Linked DNA regions of Homo sapiens: region 2 is linked to region 1. Evidence: fine-mapped expression QTL. A gene starts in region 1. The other region holds a variant in brackets. All regions are shown on one strand. Distances are from middle to middle.

Region 1 (10,145 bases):
ACTTAATGAAAAGTTCACAGCTGCCTGGAAACTGTTTTGAGAGCAAACATTCATTTAAAAAAAATGTTTGCCTTTTATTTTAGATCCAGAGGGTGCATGCACAGGTTTGTTCCATGCATATTACTGCACGATGCTGAGGTTTGGAGTACAAATGATCGCGTGACCCAGGTAATGAGAATATTAGCCAATAAGTAGTTTTTCAGTCCATGCCTCCTTCCCTTCCTCTCCCTTCTAGCAGTCCCCAGTGGCTACTGCTCCCATCTTTATGTCCATGTGTGCTCAATGCTTAGCTCCCACTTATAAGTGAGAACATGCGGCATTAAGTTTTCTGTTTCTGTGTTAATTCACTTAGGATAATGGCCTCCAGCTGCACCCACATTGCTGCAAAGAATATGATTTTGGTTTCTTATGGCTATGTAGTATTCCATGGTGTATCTGTACCACATTTTCTTTTTCCATTCCACCACTGATGGGCACCTAAGTGGATTCCATGTCTTTGCTATTCCGAACAGTGCTTTGATGAACATGTAAGTGCATGTGTTTTTTTGGTAGAGTGATTTATTTGCCTTTGGGGATATATCCAGTAATGGGATTGCTGGGTCAAATTGTAGTTCTGTTTTCAGTTCTTTGAGAAATCTCCAAACTGCTCTCCACAGTGGCTGAGCTAATTTACATTCCCACCAACAGAGTATAAGCGTTCTCTTTTATCCACAGCCTCACCAACATCTGTTATTTTTTGACTTTTTAATAATAGCCATTCTGATTGGTGCAAGACGGTATCTCATTGTGGTTTTTATTTGCATTCCTCTGATGATTAGTGATGTGGAGCATTTTTCCATATGGCAAACACTCATTGACCAATGACTTGGGCAGGACATCAGTTCCCTCCAGAGGTACTCAGCAATGAAGGAGGCCTCGTTCCTGCACAGGAAGAGCTGAATCTTGTGGGGTGGAGTCTCACAGATGTTCAAACAGTGACAACAGAGGTTCATCTTGTTTTGTTTTTTTTTCCTCAGCAAACGCTTGTTGAGAGCCTACCCTTGCCAGGCCCTATTATCAAGCTGGGGATTTACAGACATGAGACTTGTGCTCATGGTTTATTTCAGGGGATTAGTAGAAAATGAGCCAAAATCCAGGCAGCACATGAGCATGTGAGGGACACATTTACAGTGTTTACGAGTTAGGAGAAGAGAGGCGAATCACTGCCCTTTCAAGATTACTGGGAGCCCAGAAAAATGCCTTTTATCCTGCTCCAAGAATGAATAAAGAGAATGTGCTTGCTATCTGCCTCTCTAATAACACAGAGGGAACAGGCAGAGAAAATGAGAGGGAAGAATGAAGGGTAGAAACAAACTACTAAGAAAACCACAGGAAAAGGTGAGGTGCCTCCGGATTTCAAAGCTACAAGTAAAAGCTTTTGACAGAGTCCAAGGGGGAAAACAATGTTTGTTCATTCATTCATACATACATGCAATAAGTATTTATTGAGCATCTACCAATTGCCAGACACTGTTCTAGGGATATAGCAGTAGTTAAAACAGACAAAGTAACTCCTATCCTCATGAAGCTTACGATACGGTTTGGCTGTGTCCTCATCCGAATTTCAACTTGAATTGTAGTTCCCATAATCTCCATATATTGTGGGAGGGACCCAGTGGGAGGTGGTTGAATCATGAATCATGAGGGCAATTCCCCTCAGGCTGTTGTGATAGTGAGTGAGCTCTTACAAGATCTGATGGTTTTATAAGGGGCTTTTCCCCTTTTGCTCAGCACTTCTCTTTCCTGCTGCCATGTGAAGAAGGATGTGTTCACTTCCCCTTTCGCCATGATTTTATAAGTTTCCTGAGGCCTCCCCAGCCAAGCTGAACTGTGAGTCAATTAAATCTTTTTCCTCTGTAAATTAGCCAGTCTCGGGTATGTCCTTATAGCAGCATGAGAATGGATTAATACACTTACATTCTATGTAACAAATAAGTAAAATATGTTGTATAGGTAAAAAAATATATCATCTGGTGCTATGTCTTATGGAGACAAATTAAGCAAGGAAGGGGGACAGAGTGCGATGGAAAGGATTATTCCTCTCCTAGGTGAAGAAGTATTTATGGAGTGTCTATCATGTGTGCTAAATGCACACATAAGGCAGAGATGAATTCATTCATTTGTTCATTAAATATTTATTGCATGCTTTCTTTGTGACAGTCAGTGTGCTAAACCCTAGGAAAACAAGGTGTCTGCCATAAAGGAACTTCCAGACTAGTGTGAAAGTCAGTCATTCAATAACGCACTGTTCAAATGCACAATTACAAACGAAAGTAAAAGCTATGAATAGGGCCGTGTGTGGTAGCTCACACCTAAAATCTCAGGACTTTGGGAGGCCAAGGAGGAAAGATCCCTTGAGGCTAGGAGTTCCAGGCTGTACTGTGCAATGATCATACTTCTGAATAGCCATTGCTCTCCACCCTGGGCAACAAAGTGAGACCCTTATCTCTACAAAAAATACAAAAATTACCCAGGCATGATGGCAACAGTCCTTGCTACTCAGAGGCTGAGGCTGGAGGCTAGCTTGAGCCGGGGAGTTCAAGGTTGTAGTGATCTATGATCGTGCCATTGTACTCCAGCCTGGGCAACAGAGTGAGACTGTCTCTGAAAAAAGAAAAAAAAAGCTATGAATAGAATAGTTAAACGAAAAGAAAAACTAAATTTAACAGAGTTTAATTGAGCAAAAATCAAGTTATGAATCAGGCAACCCTAAGAACCAGAATAGGTTCAGAGCAACTCTGGGGCTGCCACGTGGTTGCATAATACTTATGGACAGAAACAGGAAAGTGATGTACAGAAAACATAAGTGAGGTACAGAAACAGCGGGATTGGTTACAGCTCATGATTTGCCTTACCTGAACACAGTCTGAACAGTTGGCTGCCTATAATGGGCTGAAACTTCCATGATTGATACAAGAGTAGGTTACAGTTCACTATGTACGAAGAAACTTTTAGGGTGAAACTAAAACATTAAGGAGGCAGCTTTAAGTTAAACTTAACAGATTATAATATGTACATGTACTTAAGTTGGGGGATCACAGCAGGCATCTCCAAGGGAGTGATATCTGACCTGAGATCTAAAGAATGTATAAGAATGAAAGACATAAACACTTGTTGTAAACTACCGTAACTAAAACAGTGTAGTATTGCGACAAGGTTGGGCAGCTAGATAATGTAAGAGAAATGGGAGGCCGGAGCTAGACTCACACACCTATGAAAACTGATATAGGCCAGGGGTAGCAGGTCAGTTGCAGGTCAGTGGCCAGATGTGAGCAATTCAATAAATGTTACTGAAAAACACACATTAGCCACATGGAAAAATGAAATTGTATCCCTGCCTCACATCCTACACAGAAATCAATTCCAAGTGGTTGAAAAACTTAAATGTGAAAGGAAAATCTTTAAATCTTGTTGGGGAAAATATAGAATATCTTTAAGGGCTTGGGTAGAAATAGACAAGTCACAAAAATCACTAACCATAACGGCAAAAAAATTGAAGATTGGTATATTTGGTTATACTGCAATTCAAATTTCTATTCATCAGACTACACCACAAAAAGGTGGGACAGAAAAGAAAGAAAGAAAAAAGAAAGAATAAGTTACAAATTACGAGAAAACATTACTAATTCATGTAACTGGCAAAGAAGGGATATCTAAAACATATAAAACCCCTAAAAATCAGTAAGAAAAAGACAACAGAAAAATGAGCAAAATTTATGAGCAGGCATTTTTTTTTTTCTGAAAAGGAAACTCCATGGGAAATAAATATATGAAAGGTGCTCAAACTTATTAGCAGTTATTAGGTAATGCAAATTGGATTCCTGATACATCATTTTACACTTATCGCATTGTCAAAAATTAAAATATCTGCCTATAATAACCAAGCACCTGCAGGTAAATCAAAAGTAAAGGCATTTGATTAAGTCAAAGAGAGAAAATTAAGTTTGTTTATTCATTCACACAGCAAGAATTTTTGAGCCTGTGGTGGTGTGTGTCTTGGGGAGAAGGGTTGGTAAAGTGTTATGGGTTATTGTTTTCACCCTGATTCTTATGTTGAAGCCCTAAGCCCCAGTACCTAAGGATATGACCTTATTTGAAGGTAGAGCCTTTACATAGGTAATCAAGTTAAAACAAGGTCATTAGGATGGACCCTAATTGAATATGACTGGTGTCTTCATAAAAGGGGAAATTTGGACACAGGGACACACACAGAGGGATGAAAATGTGGAGACATAGGAAGAAGATGCCCCTTCTCCTAGCCCCTCTCCTACAAACCTAGGAGAGGCATGGAACAGATCCTTCCCTCACAGCCCTCAGAAGGAACCCACTCTGCCCACACCTTGATTTTGGACTTCCAGCCCCCAGACCTGCGAGACAATAAATTTTTGTTGTTTAAGCCGCTCAGTCTGCGGCACTTTGTTACAGCAGCCCTAGCAGAGTCAAACAGGTGGGGATCTGCTTCTGGGCTTCTCTGTTTCACACAGGTCCTGAGGCAAGAATTTGCCTTTGCCTGTAATCAAGGGCGAGCCGGGCAGCCAAGGTTCCGAAACGCACCGTGAAGACCCTCTAACTGTGCCTACTATTCTGCTCCCCTCCGATCGGCGCGGGGCTCTTGTCCTTCCTCTCTCCACCCAGCGAATGAATGAACGCAGGAGCGCTCGGAGTACACGTCTTCAACTCGGCGACGCCCCTGCTTCGGCCCCACCCCGCAAACACCCGCCCCGGACCAGGCCCAGGGTAGGCGCCCATGAGGTATGTCGAATGAATATATTCGCGCGCTCTTTGCAGCTGCCTGAATTCTTCCTTCCCCAGCATCCCCCTCCGCCCGGTCACCCAGACGGCCTTCTCCAGCCTTGCCGAGCTTAAGTAAGCTGAGGGGCGCTCAGTGTGGCAGCTCTGCGTGTGCAGGGAAGGGGCCAGGATGCAGAGGGGCAGCGCAGGAGCGAGGACGCCACGGCTCAGCGCCCCGCCAGCCTCATGATGGAGCGCTGCCCTGGGGGCAGGGCTGACCCAGAGCCAGCGGCTCGTGAGTGAGAGCCCCCCGACCACGGCCCTTCTCGGGGAGCGGGCCAGCCGCCGGGGTCCCAGCCTGCGGGGTCCGCCCGCGCTTTTGTCCTCCCGGGCGTGCGTGTCCGGGTCTCGGCCGGTTCCCCGTCGGCCAGGCGGAGCTGCGGGGCGACGCCACGAGTCTGCGGGCCCGCGGCGGGGAGCGGCCCCCGGCCAACCCCAGTTCGACGACGTGTTGGGCGTCTCACTCCGGGTGGGTTCCGCGGCGGGGTGTATTTATGGAGTATTGAAGAAATATCTCCGTCGGGACGGCCGGAAGGAAAGAGGCCAGAGGCGCGGAGGCCGGCTAGAGCCGGGAACGAACGTCCGACCGGGAGGTTGGGGGCCGGAGCGGGAGGCGTGGGGAGAGGTCGTGGGCGGGACCGCGAAGGGCGGGGAGTGGGGCGGGCCGGCTCGGATTCCGGAAGGCTGAGACTCCAGTGACCCGGCGGGAGGAGAGGCAACTTTCCCTGTCGGGCTTGAGTTGGGAGAGGAGCAGGGCGGCCTTGTAGGGTAGGGACAGATGCGGGGAGGCTCCCGAGTCTCTGGCAGTTGAGTGCCCAGGCCCCCTTCGCCCTGTCCAGGAGACTGTTGGGGAGTCCCCAGGCCCTAAGTCACGGGGCACCTCTTAGAGCTACGCACCCTAGTTCTGTCTTTAGGGACTGGGCCCCTCATTCCGGATTGTGTGTTAGGGGTGATGTCCTCCCCCTTCACCTCAAGGAAGGGACTTCCAGTGTATGAACCTTTGGCTGTAGCCAGGAGGGGCCTAGTGACCTGAGCACCCCAGGCCATGTGTGCTGCCTGCTCCAGGGGCCTGAAACATCCTTCCTGTGTGACCTGCAGCTGACCCCTCCCTACCCTCTGGTCCACGACAGGCTCTCCCAGCCGCCTTCTGTGTCACTACTGTTCTCTTTGCCTATTTCCTGCAGGCAGAGCTCAGCTCCTGTGCCTTTGGTGTGGGGAGGGTGTTCTGCGCCTGAGAGCTGCCCTGTCCAGGGCGGGCAAGACCTGAGGTGCTCTGTTCACATTGTGTCTGCCAGGACCCGTCCCTGCTCCTGACCATCACCGTCACTGGGGTCACTGTGCTCGTGTTGGTCCTGAAGAGCATGAACTCCAGGAGGAGAGAGCCAATCACCTTACAGGACCCTGAAGCCAAGTACCCGCTGCCCTTGATTGAGAAAGAGGTAATGGGTCAGCCCTGTGGGTGGAAGGCAGTAAGTGGATGATGGCTGGGATGGCAGGGCATCCAGACAGTCATCTCATGGCCTCCAGTTCACTCCCCGCCGCCCTGTGTGTGTGTGTGTGTGTGCTGGAATAGCGCCAAACGGACCTCCTTTCCCAGGCATCTCAGCTGCCCAGCAAGGCTTCTAGAAAGCTGACAGAACCTGCCTATGTTTTGTTTTATCAGAAAATCAGCCACAACACCCGGAGGTTCCGCTTTGGACTGCCTTCGCCGGACCATGTCTTAGGGCTTCCTGTAGGTGAGCCGGGCTTGGGTCATCACCAGGACTGGGGCCTCTGGGGGCTAGGCCCTCCTCTCTTAACAGAAACACAGGTTTCCCACGTCCTGAGGTGTGGAAGATGCCCTCTTGCTCCTCCTGAGCCTGTGAGCTCAGGGAGATAGATAGGGGGATGGATGTGGGACAGAAAATTTCTTTTCTTCATTATTCCAATTGGGCTGACACGAGAGTGGTACCTCAGTGAGCATTGAAAAGAACTGAACCTAGAGCCAAAAGGCCTAAAATCTCATGGAAGGCTCCTTGCTGGGGAACTTAAGGGAAGTCCTTCAATCTCTCTGAGCCTCAGTCTATGAAATGGGATTTCCCAGGCCTGCCTGTCTACCTCACTTGGGTTGTTGTGAAAGTAGAGTGACTGATGGATATGAAAATTCAGAAACTACAAAGTATTGTGCACCTGGGAGGGATGGGAGGAACCAGTGGTCGGGGAAAGGCCCAGAATGTGCGGGTAGGCAGGAATGAGTCAGGTGTGCCCTGCCCCCAAGGTCACTTAGATTCTCTGCAGGGGCCTCAGACCCACATAAGGAGGGACCAGCCCTACGAGTTGCAGATTCCAGCCCTAGGAGTCCTAGAGTTGAGTTATCCCATTTCTAATCTGTAACACCACTAGATAGCTGAGTCAGTCTTAGTGCAGTAGAAAACTGCTAGAATCAGGGATTCAGAGCAGCTTTGTATAATCTGCTAGTGCTGCTTGCCTGCCTGGTGGATCCTACTCCGTGGCCTATTTGTCTTATATGCACAGGCCAAAACCTTGACCTCAGCTCTATCAGGTGGTGAGATTACACTCTAGCCAGCTCGCTGGGCCCCTGAGCCTCCTTGCTGTTCCCTCACTCCATCTCTATGCACGAGAGCTCAGTGTTGTGCGTGCCGTCTCTCAGCTCCCTGCTCGGCCTGTCAGGCAGGTCCTGTTGGCAGGAAGCCTAAAAGAATGAAAAACTTTGAGATAGAGAATTGCTTAGAAACTGCCTTGACCCACTATCTCCTCAGCCTTGGCCTAGGCCGTGCAAAGTTAGTGGGACAAGGTAATGTAGAGGCCTCTGGGAGAGTCTAATATGAGGCCTCAGAGTTCGCTGCTTCGTCCCAGCCCAGTGGAAGTGAAGCAAGTTAGAGATGGGGCTTGAAGGACCAGCCAGGGAGCCCCATTTGCCCTGGGGACACCCTCAGGCCAGGCCTAGGTGGCTGCATATGAAAGAGCCTTTCCAGGTTTCCAGTTTCAGGTTCTCAGAAGGAAGCTAGGTGTCTCACTTACTCCTGGCTATCCCTGGTGCCCAGAGGGACCATGACCAGAGTCATTGAGCCTGTTCTGAGCCCAGAGTGTTGGCACCTCAAAGACTTGGCTCATCCCCTTGAATCAGCTTCAGGGACCAGCCCCTCTAGTGCCTACTCTGCCTGCTTTTTTCTCCTCCTGCCTCCTCCTCCTCCCTGCACCTTAGGTCTTGGTTTCTATCCATCTCTCTGTTCCATCTTCCTTGTCTCGACTAATTTCCCGTATGTAGTCCACTCAGTTTCTGAGCGAGTAGAAACTGAGGGAGTAAACTGACTACATACATACAGGAAGTTAGTCAAGGGTTAGGGTTACAAAACTTTCTCTTGCCTCTAGCTCTTAGTATCTCTTGATTGCACTCCTGTCCCTGCCACTAATTGCCTTAGTAATTTGAGTCTCACATTTTGGATCCAACAGGTCGTAGCTGCCCAGTGTGTCATCTGACAGTGGGATGTAGTCATGATCCATAGGTCTCTGGCCACACCTGGTTTATTGAATTCTACCCAGGAAGGGCAGAGTTACATGGTTAAAAACTTCACTGCTACTCCTCACAAGGCCATAGGCCAGGAAGACATGATATTGTTGTTTCATTTGCTCCATGGGTACCCAAATCCTAGGGCCCTGTAGTATCTGTGAGCCCAGGCCTGCTCTGTGCCTAGTACCAGGATACAGATGGAGTAGTTGTAATTTATTCACAGATCTCAGTGATACATCCAGTTTAGGAAGAAAGGAGTTTGTGAAGGCCACATATTTTTCTTGAATAGACAAATATTCCTTTCTAATTTTTTTTTTTTTTTTGAGACAGGGTCTCATTCTGTCGTCCAGGCTGGAATGCAGTGGCACAGTCTCAGCTCACTGCAGCCTCGACCTCCTGGGCTCAGGTGATGCTCCCACCTCAGCCTCCCAAGTAGCTGAGACTGTGGGTGTGCACCACCACACCTGGCTAATTTTTTGTATTTTTTTGTAGAGATGGGGTTTCGCCATCTTGCCCAGGCTGGTCTCGAACTCCTGAGCTCAAGCAATCCACCCGCCTCTGGGCTGGGATTACAGGCGTGAGCTACCATGTCTGACCCCTTTCTGTAATTTTTAATACTCACTCTCCAACTTTAATGATCTTTTCCTGCTCCAAAAAGCAGTTACACTAAGATCACAGGTGGGCAGACATATCACCCCCATTTTACAGATGAAGAGACCAAAACCCAGAGAGGTGAAGTGACTTGCCTAGGGTAGCACAGGGAGGCAGGGCAGGCCTAGGATCCGGGCATCCCATATTTGGGTTCCTTCCCTGCTCTCTTCTTCCCACCCCTCTTAACATTGTGCCCCCAGTATTTGCTCCCTTCACTGAAGCTCAGTCCTTTATTCCTGGGCCTTATTTAAGCTAAATATGCTTTGACTCAGTGCTTGATGCCTTTTCTATAGGTAACTATGTCCAGCTCTTGGCAAAAATCGATAATGAATTGGTGGTCAGGGCTTACACCCCTGTCTCCAGTGATGATGACAGAGGCTTTGTGGACCTAATTATAAAGGTAAATAGTGCCCACCATATCTGGCTAGCTCGTGCTTCCAAGCCTACTGAGGGTGGTGGGGTGGAGGGGCAGTGCTTTTTCTCTGAGGGCACATATGCCCTAGGCAGGGCTTTCCAGCAGTGAAGCTACAGTTAACCTTGTGGCAGCTTCATCTTCAGGGATTGCGTACAACAATTCAGAGAGGAGAACACTTTCTCTGCAAAGCTTCCAGCAGTAAATGCATTTTCTAGTTGTACGTGGCTGTGGCATTGTGTCTGGGAATGTGAAAGCAGTGCTGCCTTGCTTTTCAGATCTACTTCAAAAATGTACACCCCCAATATCCTGAAGGTGGGAAGATGACTCAGTATTTGGAGAACATGAAAATCGGGGAGACCATCTTTTTTCGAGGGCCAAGGGGACGCTTGTTTTACCATGGGCCAGGTACTGGAGGGGTTAATACTTGGGCTCCCAGCTGGGAGGAAGATTCCTGCAATGGTTCCATTGTTCTCGTACACTCCTCAGATTTGAGTCACATGGGGTTGTCCTTAGTCTTCATTCATTCACACACAATGCATAATGATCACACTTGTTACACATTCACACACCCACTTCATGAGGTTGTCAGCTTTTGTAAGGTAGGGGAATGACTTGGTGTTTCCTCGTCATTGTATCAAAATCTCCAGCACAATGCCTGATACATAAATGGTGCCTGCTAATACTGAAAAATGGATGGAGGGAGTCCATGCTCCTTGGTTACTCACATAGCCATTGTTT
Region 2 (10,145 bases), 22 kb after region 1:
ACAGATACCCCTTGCAGATGACGGGAGATAGAGTCAGGCAGTGCTGTGGGTAAGGAGCCTCGTTGCTTTACCCGCTCATACCCTAAACACCTGCCTTGCCCAGCCACAGTCCCAAGAATGGAAAAAGCACGTTCTGTGAAGCAGCCCCGGAGGGACCTCCTGGTGACCATTTCACAAAACACAGTCTCTACAGAACATTCAAAACAGTTTTTCGGAACTTTTTTTCCAGCAGGTTTTATGAACTAACAGCTCTTCCCCTCGAGTGTGAGAGCCTCCAGGCTGTCACCAGGAATATCACGAGCCATCGAGTCTGTGTGCTGATATGTCACTGCCCTCCCACAAAGTGGTCTGCAGTCCACGTATAAAAGTACAAAAGGTATGAAGCCTGCGGTGAAGAGCGCAGCATGGTTGAAGACACACATGGACCCTGGGGCCACCCCTGGACACCTGTCCCACAGCTCTGCTTCATGCCTGTCAGCAGCCTGTCTGAGACACCCTGCCAGCCCGGACTGGGCTTGCAGAGGGGGCTGTGTGCCCGCTCCCCACAGAAGCAAAGGCTCCGGGGCCCCCACACATGCCTCCCTACGCTCTCAGCCACGAAGAAAGTCATCTCCAGTCATCAGAGTTGGGGGCAGGCAGGCGAGAGTCATTCAGCAGCTGGTCCTGGCTCAGCATTGTCTGAAAAGGACACAGCCGAAGGGTCAGTTTAATAGAGTTTTGGTCCAGGCTGCCCTGCGGCAGCTGCACCGGAACTAGAGGGCACTGGGTGAGGGCTGCATCTGACACAGGTGCACTATAAGTTTATAGTGTCCCAAGAAACCCTGAGTATTGGGTCAGAATAAACAACACTATTAAGATAAAAATAAATTGTTCATCTTAGAAATAAATTTTCTATTTTCAGGCCACCAAAGGCCTAGATCATAAGGGCAAGTGTGGGCAGATTCCTTTCATGGGTGGGCCAATAAATAAAAACGTTGAGTAAAACTGATCCTGTTTGGAGTCAGGGAGACTTTCCTGTTTTGTCCTTGAAAACAAGGAGAGTCGTGTGTCCCTGTCCTTGTCCTGTCATCCCAATGGGCCTTGCTAGACAAGCAAGCAAAGTACAGGGACAGGGGCCTCGATGGGGACAGACACTATAGCCAATAGGCTCAGTGATGGAATGTCCAAGAACTAAAAGGCCTTGGGAGTGATGGATCCTCAAAAACAAATCCTGTGCTCTGTGGCTGGCCTTTTCCTGCCAGCTCTAGTCTGCCTATAAGCCTGGCAAGGAGGATGTCATTAGCCCTGCTTTACAGATAACTAAGCCAAAGCTCAGGAGAGAATGACATCCAAGGTCACAGAGCTAGTGAAGTCAGAGCAGGGACTTCAGCCTCACTCCAAAGCTGCTTTTCGAGGCCAAACTGCTTCCCCATGATATGGTTTGTCCTTTCGGGCGTGCCAGGATGTGCTCACAAGCCTGTCAACACTCTGTGATACCCACAAAGTCAGAGGCACGATAGGAAATGCATATGTCTCTGGGCAGAGGGTGGAAGTGTCCACTAGGACAGGATGCAGCCTGGGCTCTAGGCTGATGAGACAGGTGATCTAGAGTTGCTGAGCATCTTGGTTTCCTCATCTCTAAGCCTGGGAAGAGGACCTGAGATCTAGTGTGCTTTAGCTGGCTTTGGCTAACAGCCGATGAGCCTCCCCACTGCCCTTAGGGGCTCAAGGTCCAGTAACAGGCCAACAGAGAAGGCCCCTGGGCTGCTTTCTGCCTCGTGGCTGGCTCAGGCTCAGGCTGTGACCCCAGCACTAAGCACCATTCTTCGCCGTCCCCCAGGCCTTGTGCATACCACACCACACCACACCAAACTCACTGGGCCTCCCTGGCACCAGTCTGACTGTGGGGAGAGGGTCAGAGTCCTACCGTAAGGCGGTGAATGTCTTGGGAGAGGAGCCCTATCTGCGTCACGGTACCTTCCGAAGGTGCCATCTGTAAAATGGGCAGCAGCCTGGTCAGCACACATGGATGCAGCTTGTGATTCAGAGAGATGGCATGCAAGTCCTGTCGTGCTCAAGCCTGGCTTCTCCAGGGCATGCTTCTCTGGAGGGACAGGCAAGGAGTGGGCCAGGCCCTGAGGAGTGACAGGTGGGTGGAGCACATGCTGCTCCTGTTTCCTGGGGAAAGGCATCAATGTCCCACACTGCATGCATACCTCTCCTGGGGCCCCACTGGGAACTGGCATTCAGGGTACACAGAGGCAAGACACAAGCTTGTCAGAAGCAGCCCTTCTGCACGTGTTCAATGTTCCAGCTATTTCCAGGAGCAGAGAGCAGTAGGAATGAAGGCCTTCAGGATGCTAGACTCCTGCTACCAGGCAACAGGAGCTCAGACACCAATGCCCTGACATAGGTGGGCATCCTTCCTCACTACTCAAGAGCCTCCCTCCTGCCCCTCCTTCTCAGGTAATGCTGGTCTCTTCCTCCTTCCCTAAACCTACTTAGACACTGTAGATTTGGAAACATCCTCTGTAAATTTGGAGGGCACCAAGTGTAACCCCTCCCTTGTTTTATAGGTAGGAAAACAAGCCCACAAAGGGAACAGGACTTACTTGAGGGTGCAGAGAATCAGTGGCACAACAGTTCCATGCAGGTTTTGAAAACAGGCACATGCAGAGATCCCTGTACCGCAACATAAGAAACAAGGGACAAAGCCTGCCCTGACTGGCTCTACAACTCCAGTGGCCAGGCATCAGCCTGAATGAGCACTTGTCATCCAGTGGACCTGGGTACCAGGATCTATCAGCAGCATTGCCAGCTGGCAAGCTTGTCCCCACATCTCTCACCTCCCAGGAGGCAGTGGCCTGTGGCAACAGACCATGCCTGAGGCTGCTGGTAGTTTAAGAAGCAAATCTTAGCATAGCCTCCATCTGGTACAGAATCAGAGTGCTACAATGGAATGGAGTCATCAGGCCGTGCCCAGGCCATCAGACAGCGGTGACGTGGTGTTACTCTTCTGCGATGAGGCCCAGGGGATTGAGGGGAGCCAAGCACTGCCTGGGGGCAAACTAGAGTCTTCTGACCAGGAGTCCAGACTGGCAAGGCACATCTCTACCTCAGTCCCAGCCAGACAAGGCCCATCTGGAGGAGCCATTATCAGTCATTATCAGTCAGTCAGCCTCTAAATCAAGGGGACAGATCTCTTTCAGTTCTGCCAGCAGACAGACCAGCCCCCACCATGGTTATGAGCCTAGCTAAGTCAGTAATAGAGAAGCCAGCAAAACACATGAAAGAGAGTCTTTCCAGCAAGGTGCCTTCTTGTCTCCCCACCATCCCCTTCACTGGGGGGGCTCATGCCACTGAAAGCACTCAGCTTTGAGGTCTGCACGACAGATGGACCCTATGGTCAGGATGTGCATGAGACTTGAAGCCCCCTCGGCTTCACAGAGGGAAGCAAATTCTGAAGCAGTGCGGCCACGGACCTCCTCTGAAGGCTATGGGAGGGGGTCCCGCCTTGCTCTACCCCCCTGGTGAATCCTGAGCATGCACCTGGCTGAGGACTAGGCTCAGTGCCACCGGCTCTTCAGCTCTGCAATCCGTAGGACTCCATTTCCAGCTACCCTCAGCTCTTTTTCCCCAACAAAGTTAAAGATATGGTGAGCTGCTTGCTTTCCGCATAAATATTGCTTTTATTACAAGAAAGAAGAGACCACCTCTGAAGTAAGGCACAACACAATTCCATTGTCACTGTGGCAGAAGTCCCTGTTGCTCATCCCTTTGATCTCAGCCAAGACTGTGGTCCACGGGCCTAAGGCACTTGAGCTTTTCCCTCAACTGAAGTGTAGGGGGTGCCTGAGAGCTGAGCCTCGTGGGAGTGTCCATGGTCTCTGGACCTGCATCGAAGTTCATGTGTTTCCACTGGTGCTGAAGATGAACATCAAGAATTACTAGACATGTAAAAGTGTCTTTAAGTGTCTTTCCTCCTGAGTCCACCTTTGGCAATGGTCCCCAAAGCCTGGCCCCTTAGAGATGCAGCTCCAGATCCTGGCCACCCTCAGGGTTCAAAGAGACTGGCCCAGGGGTACACAATTGCTGGAATATTCTCTGCGAGTCATGCACACGTGCGGGGGTGAGGTGCAGTTATATGGTGACACACACAGTGTTACTGTGAGCTCTCAGGGTGCACAGAGGGCAGGTGACAAGGGCATCAGCTAATCTGTCCCACCTGGTCCAGCCCATCCAGTTCAGGGGCATCAAGGGGGCTGAGGCCCCGGTAGCCACTGTAGACCCTGTGACTATCACTGACACCGTCACTGGGCTCCATTGGGCAAATGTAGTCCGTCGATTCATCGAACTTCTTTTTTCTTATGTTTCCGAAGTGTGAAAATCCTAGTTTCCTTGGCTAAAACACAGAAAATGCAAGATTATGAGAAGGCAATCAAGGCAGTGTGCAGGTATGACTGACAATATACTTAAAATTTAAGAGCAGGCACTCAAGGAGAGGAATAATGTAAACTGCTCCTAGAAAGACTCTGAACAAAACAGAGCTCTTGGAAGCAATTTCTATGCTGCAGAAAGGCCAATAGGTAAATAATCTTGAACAATAAGAGCTGCCCCTCCAATACTATGCCTGAAACTCATGCCTGGCTGCCCCACCAAAGTGACTTTCTTATTTCCATAGATGAACTGGGAGTTCCTTTAGAATGTACTTGAGGTCTGCA[T/C]TTGAGGCGAAGCACAGAGAACTTGCCTCAGCACAGCTGCTGGCACCCCAACCCTTTCCCATCTCAGCACCTGGCACCATCTAAAGGCGCGTAGGATAGCCCCAGGTTGCTCCCTGCCCTAGCGTCATCCAGCACTGTTTCTGCCTGACTCCCCCAGACATACTTCCTGTCTTGCTCCCCTGGGGAAGGAGGTCTGTGCCTGAGTTGTAGCTGGGCATGAAGCATCAACACTACCAGGGATAGGACCAGCCTGGCCTCCAGAGGTTGCCTGTTGGTCTGTAGTCTGGGAAGAATGTGGTCTGAGGATGCTGTGGCTCAGGCAGGTCTAAAGGGCTTTGTGGGATTCTGGGAGCCCCAGTGAGTAGTGTTGGTGCTTGAAAGACCTGGGGACCTCTGGGTATCTGTGTGCTGGCCACTTCACGAAACAAGACAAATGGAACCAGCTTCCATTGGAAGCACTTCCTATATCAGCAGGACAGCTTTGACCAAGATCCCACGGCATTGCGGCACGCAGGCAGGCCTGACCGAAGGAAAGCCAGACTCGGAGCGCTTCCGCTCTGCAAGGTGAGTCACAGCAGCAGTGGGGTAGAGGACGAGCTCTAAGCCACCTGAGGATAGGTGCTTCCTGCACATATTTTCTAGGTAAAGAAACCTGCACTGTCTTCCTTGGACTCCAAACTGGTGGAGAACTGGCTTAACAAAGACTGGCCTCACAGACCACAAGCCCACAGCAGAAGCTGAAAGATCCTCTTTGTCCAGGCTGCGCATGCTGCTCTGGCTGTGGGCATCGCGCCAGGTGCTGTGCTGCGTGAGGGCCAGGAGGCAGCCCAGGGCCCACCCAGAAAGGCTCTGCAACTCACCCGGACTTTGGCTGTGGTGGTCAGTGGTGTGTAAGCTGGTGAGGCCATTTTCTCTCGCTTCTCCTGTTCAGCCTCCGGACCAATCAAGGCATTGAACTTGGTGGTCAGGTGGCGCCTGAGGAGCGTCTTTTGTGGGGGGATGTTGAGAAGCATAGCCAGGGTGTCCCCAGTGAAGCGTGGCTCCAGGATCTAAGAAGGAACCAGAGACAAGCCTGGCCAGGAGCAAATACAAATGGCTCGAGGGGGAGGATGCTGAGAGACTGGCCTGTTGGGGCTGGGGGTGCCTCCAGAGGAGGGACAGGAGCTCAGTCACTTGTTCTGAGTCCCACTCCACTCACTGGCTGGCACAGGGCCTGGCTCTGAGCACATACTAGCACATGTGCTGACTGACCACCTTGTTTTCACAGACCAGCAGAGAACTGGGACCTCTTTGGTGAGGCTGTCTCTCAGGATCTTCTCTGGATGACATCCAAGCCACCACACTTCCTCATTTCCCCTCTGGCTTTGCCACTGACAGATCTGAGTAGTGATAGGGATCCTATTGCAGCAAGTGGGAAGCTGCATTTTTACGGCTTCCCCGTCCCTTCCTCAGCCCTGCTGTTCCCTCGCCTTGTAAGCGTTGGTCTCCATGCAACCCATCGACCTAGAATCCTCAAGTCTCATGCCAAGGAGGTGCTGCCAGAAGGCATCTTGCTTCCATGAGGTATATTAATTCTCAAGGACAAGTTATCAAAATACTTTGAGACATCAAATTATGCAAGACCTCCAGATGAAGTACCTATTTTTTTTCGTTAGCTTTTGTGCCTTGTCCTTAATAAATAAGTTTCTGAATATCCCATTTGCACCAAGGCAGGTGGGCTAGGCCAGAGAGCCACTCACAATGAGGCCTCCATGGACTCCACTCCCTCGAAGATTGGGTGCATACTCTGCCAGGTCCACAGATCGTAACCACTCCATCACCCTGTGGTTGGACCACTGTACAACTTCTGAAGGAGAAAGGTTACTCTGTCAGAGGGAGAAGGAGAGTGAGGAAGTTAGGCTTAATAGGTCCCACCATGGTCCTCTGTGGAGTCAGCCCCGGTAAGTAACCCTGCCCCAGACGCATCACAACAATAGAAGGCCCTCAAGCTTAGTGACCCACCCCATCTGCCAGAGCACCAGCCTCCCCAGTTTCTAGGAAATAGAGCTCCCACTGAATCTTTGAAGATCTTCCACACTGAGATATCTGAATCCAGAATTCTGTTACTCCATCATTTTCCAGCTAACTTTGAGACAAATAAATGAGGACATTATAGTTATTCTTTCAGTGATTCAACAGAACTTTAAAGATGACTGTCAATTTTACAATCCAAGTGGTTTATAGATGAAAGATCTCCCTGGTGTGGCCAATGATTTTAGGGGAGCACACCTTAAGGTACTTATTCCTAAGTGCTCTCACGTAGCACTGTGGTCTTAAAAATGCACAGCGCTGTGCCTGACATATACAAGACATTCAAAACATGTTGGTTGAATAAGGAGAAAATAGGAGATAGACAGCAAAGGTAGCAGCCCAGGAAGCTGAGTTAATTTTACAGCAAGGTTAGACCTAGTTCCCAGGAACAGAGGAGATAGGATGTGACTGACAATCTTCAGTTTGGGGGTCCACCAAGAACTCCGAAGTTCATGGAACATAATCAGTTATTTCTTCAAGACTTGGGGTGCTGTTATTTACGTATACTATTTCTTCTCTAGCAAGACTACTCATGGATCCCCTGTACCTGGGCCTGGAAGTCAGTTAATTTTGGATCTACAAGTAGGGATACCTATTCTGAAATGTCTAGCTTCTACGGGCTCCTCTTCCCCCTCCTCTGTCTCTTCTCTTCTCTTCTACTGTGACACCCATCTTTCCATTTTGTCTTTCCCTCCCCCTCTCCTTTGCACCATCTCCTCATCTCCTTTAATCACTATGATGACTTTATAGCATGTGTCTCCCCAGTGGAGGGTGGGAGCTTAGAGGTCTATGGCTACTGTGAGACACAAAGTGCAGGTAACGGATGTTTGGGGCAACAGGAAGCACAAGCAAACAAAAGAATCCCAGGCACCATGGTGCAAAAAACAGTGCTTTTATGATGTCATTCTTGTTTGCTCATGCTCGATGTTTCAGGGGTCCTGGCTCAGGGCTACCTGGAGAGATACTATTTGTGGTCTCACCTCATCAGCTGGCCGCCGGTGCAGGCAGTGGGGGTTGAACTTGTTGACATGCAGCACGTGAATGGCACATTTGATGCTGAGATGATGTAGTTGGCTGGTGACTTTTAAGAAGAGTAAATCGTTCTGAAAGAGGAAAGTTTGGTTTATAAACCAGAGTTTCCAAAGTGACAAAAGACCCCTGATGTCCCTCACCAGACCAAGCATAGACAAGTCAACCACATCTCAGGAAGGTGCACGTGGAGACACCAATAGCTTATCACAGTGGTTTGTACTCTGCTACTTGGGACCTCTTTTGTGACAAATGATACTATTTCAAGGCCTTAAGAATATATGGAATCAAGTTTAAAATAACCACCATGGGTACACGTGAGCTGAGTGCTCACAGGGACAACTGAAATATTTAAAGAAAAAGTCCTCACCACAGTTAGGTATTGCAGCATTCGTCTGTCAACTCTAGATTCATGAAACTGGTCTTTGTACTGGGGTAAGCCAATATCATCAAGCCACCCTACAAATACAAAAACCCCAGATGTGTCAGGATTCATGAGAATGAGAGAATGTAGACACCAAAAAAAGGGGAGCAAATTATATTTTGAGGTTCGTTTTATTCCCCCAAAAGTTTAGTAATTCCTCTGCTTTTTACAAGGAGACAGCTGTCCTTGAGGTACCCATTTAACAGGAAAATTCTTTCTACTCTTAGTTGCTGCCAGAGACATTCTTAATACATATATGCCTATCCTTACTTGTCACCCAAATGTGGTCTAGCAGTGCAGACTTCTCCTCCTGTTTGGTGTTGATGGCTTTCACTGCTAAAACAAGCTTCTTCCTGTGGAGTGGGTGCTTAATTCCTAGCTCCTGAAATTAAAAGATGAAGACCACATGTGAAATTTTGGCAGGCAATTTGGCCCTCAGAGAAAGCTGTGTCTGGGTGGAGATGCTCTGAGTATGGCAGTGTATCTCCACACCGTGCCCTGGGATGCCAACCTGCAGCTACAGAGGAACTCTCAGCCTCCTCCATCCATCCTCCTGTGTGTATGTGTGACAGGAGTGGCGGACCCTGGCCTCCCCATGCTTTGGGGAGAAATGGGAGCCTCCTCTCCCCAAGCTGAGCCCTTACCTTTTCCATGTCCTGAGGGGTGGCTGTCAATAAGGTGTGGCCAGAAGATACCCACTGCCTGGCAAAGATCACATACTGAGCCAGGCCAAAGTCCTCCAGCCATGCACACACACGCTCTGTGCTCCACTGGGCAAAGGGGGCATTGGCGTCACTGGGAAGCAGGAAAACAGCATATTCCTGTTAGTGGGAGAGCCTGAGGTTCTGAATCTAATCATGTCTCACAAACAAAAGAAAAGAAAAGAAAAAACAAAACAAAAAACCTGTTTTTTAACAAACAACCTCCATCATGGGATTCTGCTGAACAAAATTCCACTACAACACACTCATAGGAGGTAGACCCTAGAGTTTTCTTAATAACACAAGATCTGAATTTCAAATCTCAGGCTACTTAGAGAATGGGGCAGCCTGTATGGCCCTCCTGAGATCATGTTCACATGTCCTAGGTCCGCATACACACATATACATGCCACAAGTCCAGAGCTGTGGCCTCATTAGGCGGAATCATCTTTTTAGGAAAATGCTTAGAAAACTACTTTTCTTAGCATTTAAGAGGGTCAGTTCTCTTAACATTAAAAAGAAAAAAAACAAAACACCCAAAACTAAAAGCAAAAACTTGCCAATCAACAACAGCTAGCACATTACTTATTAACAAAACAGGAGGAACATTCACATTAAAGTCAATAAAAGGACAATATATTTTTCATCAGTACTAACAACACTGGTCTGAGAGTCATAGCCAGTATTAGAGATAAATAAGAACAAGAAGTATAGCTATTAGGCAGAAATAAAGCCATTCTTTACAGATGTCAGGACTGCCCATTTAGAAAACCCAAGAAAGCTCAGTGAGGTGGCCACTTACGAAATACACATATAAACATATGTAACGTATGTTACATACAAAGATCAATAATTTTCTAATACCATCAATGCACAGATACTAATGCTACTGTTAAAACAATTTAAAAATCCCACTCATAGCAACCAACATTATAAAACGTCTAGGAATTGCCTTAACAAGAGATGTTTGGCCTTGTGTGATTATGTGTGGGGATTGCGGGGGTGGGGAGAGGTATTGACTGCAGCAGTCAACTGAGCTAGATAAAAAAGGACATGAATAAATGAAAAGCTAGATTATGTTCCTAGACAGGATGACTGGGTTTTATAAAGCCATCAATTCTTAAAGACATCCATTTTTCATTTAAAGTGTGAATAGCACACTAAAAATCCCAATAGAGTCATTTTTTTAGGGGGGATTCGACAGAGCAACTTTATGTTCAT

The links. PIP is the estimated chance that this variant, and not a neighbour inherited with it, causes the effect.
Region 2: its variant is fine-mapped to the expression of CYB5R2 in whole blood (TOPMed, PIP 0.98).

What each region holds. Positions count from the first base shown.
Region 1 is chr11:7,668,872-7,679,016 of GRCh38, reverse strand. CYB5R2 (cytochrome b5 reductase 2) reads left to right here and starts at 5,517. Exons shown (of 9, transcript NM_016229.5): 1 at 5,517-5,598; 2 at 6,126-6,269; 3 at 6,494-6,566; 4 at 9,286-9,392; 5 at 9,683-9,812. The coding sequence starts at 6,192. It overlaps LOC105376533 (a long non-coding RNA gene), which reads right to left and starts at 2,557. Exons shown (of 11, transcript XR_007062576.1): 1 at 2,510-2,557. It also overlaps a transcript of OVCH2 not described here. RefSeq lists a silencer at 5,005-5,214 and enhancers at 5,735-5,834, 5,855-5,904.
Region 2 is chr11:7,647,260-7,657,404 of GRCh38, reverse strand. PPFIBP2 (PPFIB scaffold protein 2) reads right to left here. Exons shown (of 24, transcript NM_003621.5): 18 at 8,868-9,018; 19 at 8,494-8,605; 20 at 8,170-8,258; 21 at 7,751-7,873; 22 at 6,440-6,565; 23 at 5,561-5,749; 24 at 3,649-4,381. The coding sequence ends at 4,187. Among named protein-coding and RNA genes, the nearest start is that of CYB5R2, 21 kb to the left of the region's middle. RefSeq lists an enhancer at 5,333-6,532. The variant T/C (reference allele first, on the strand shown) is at 4,701.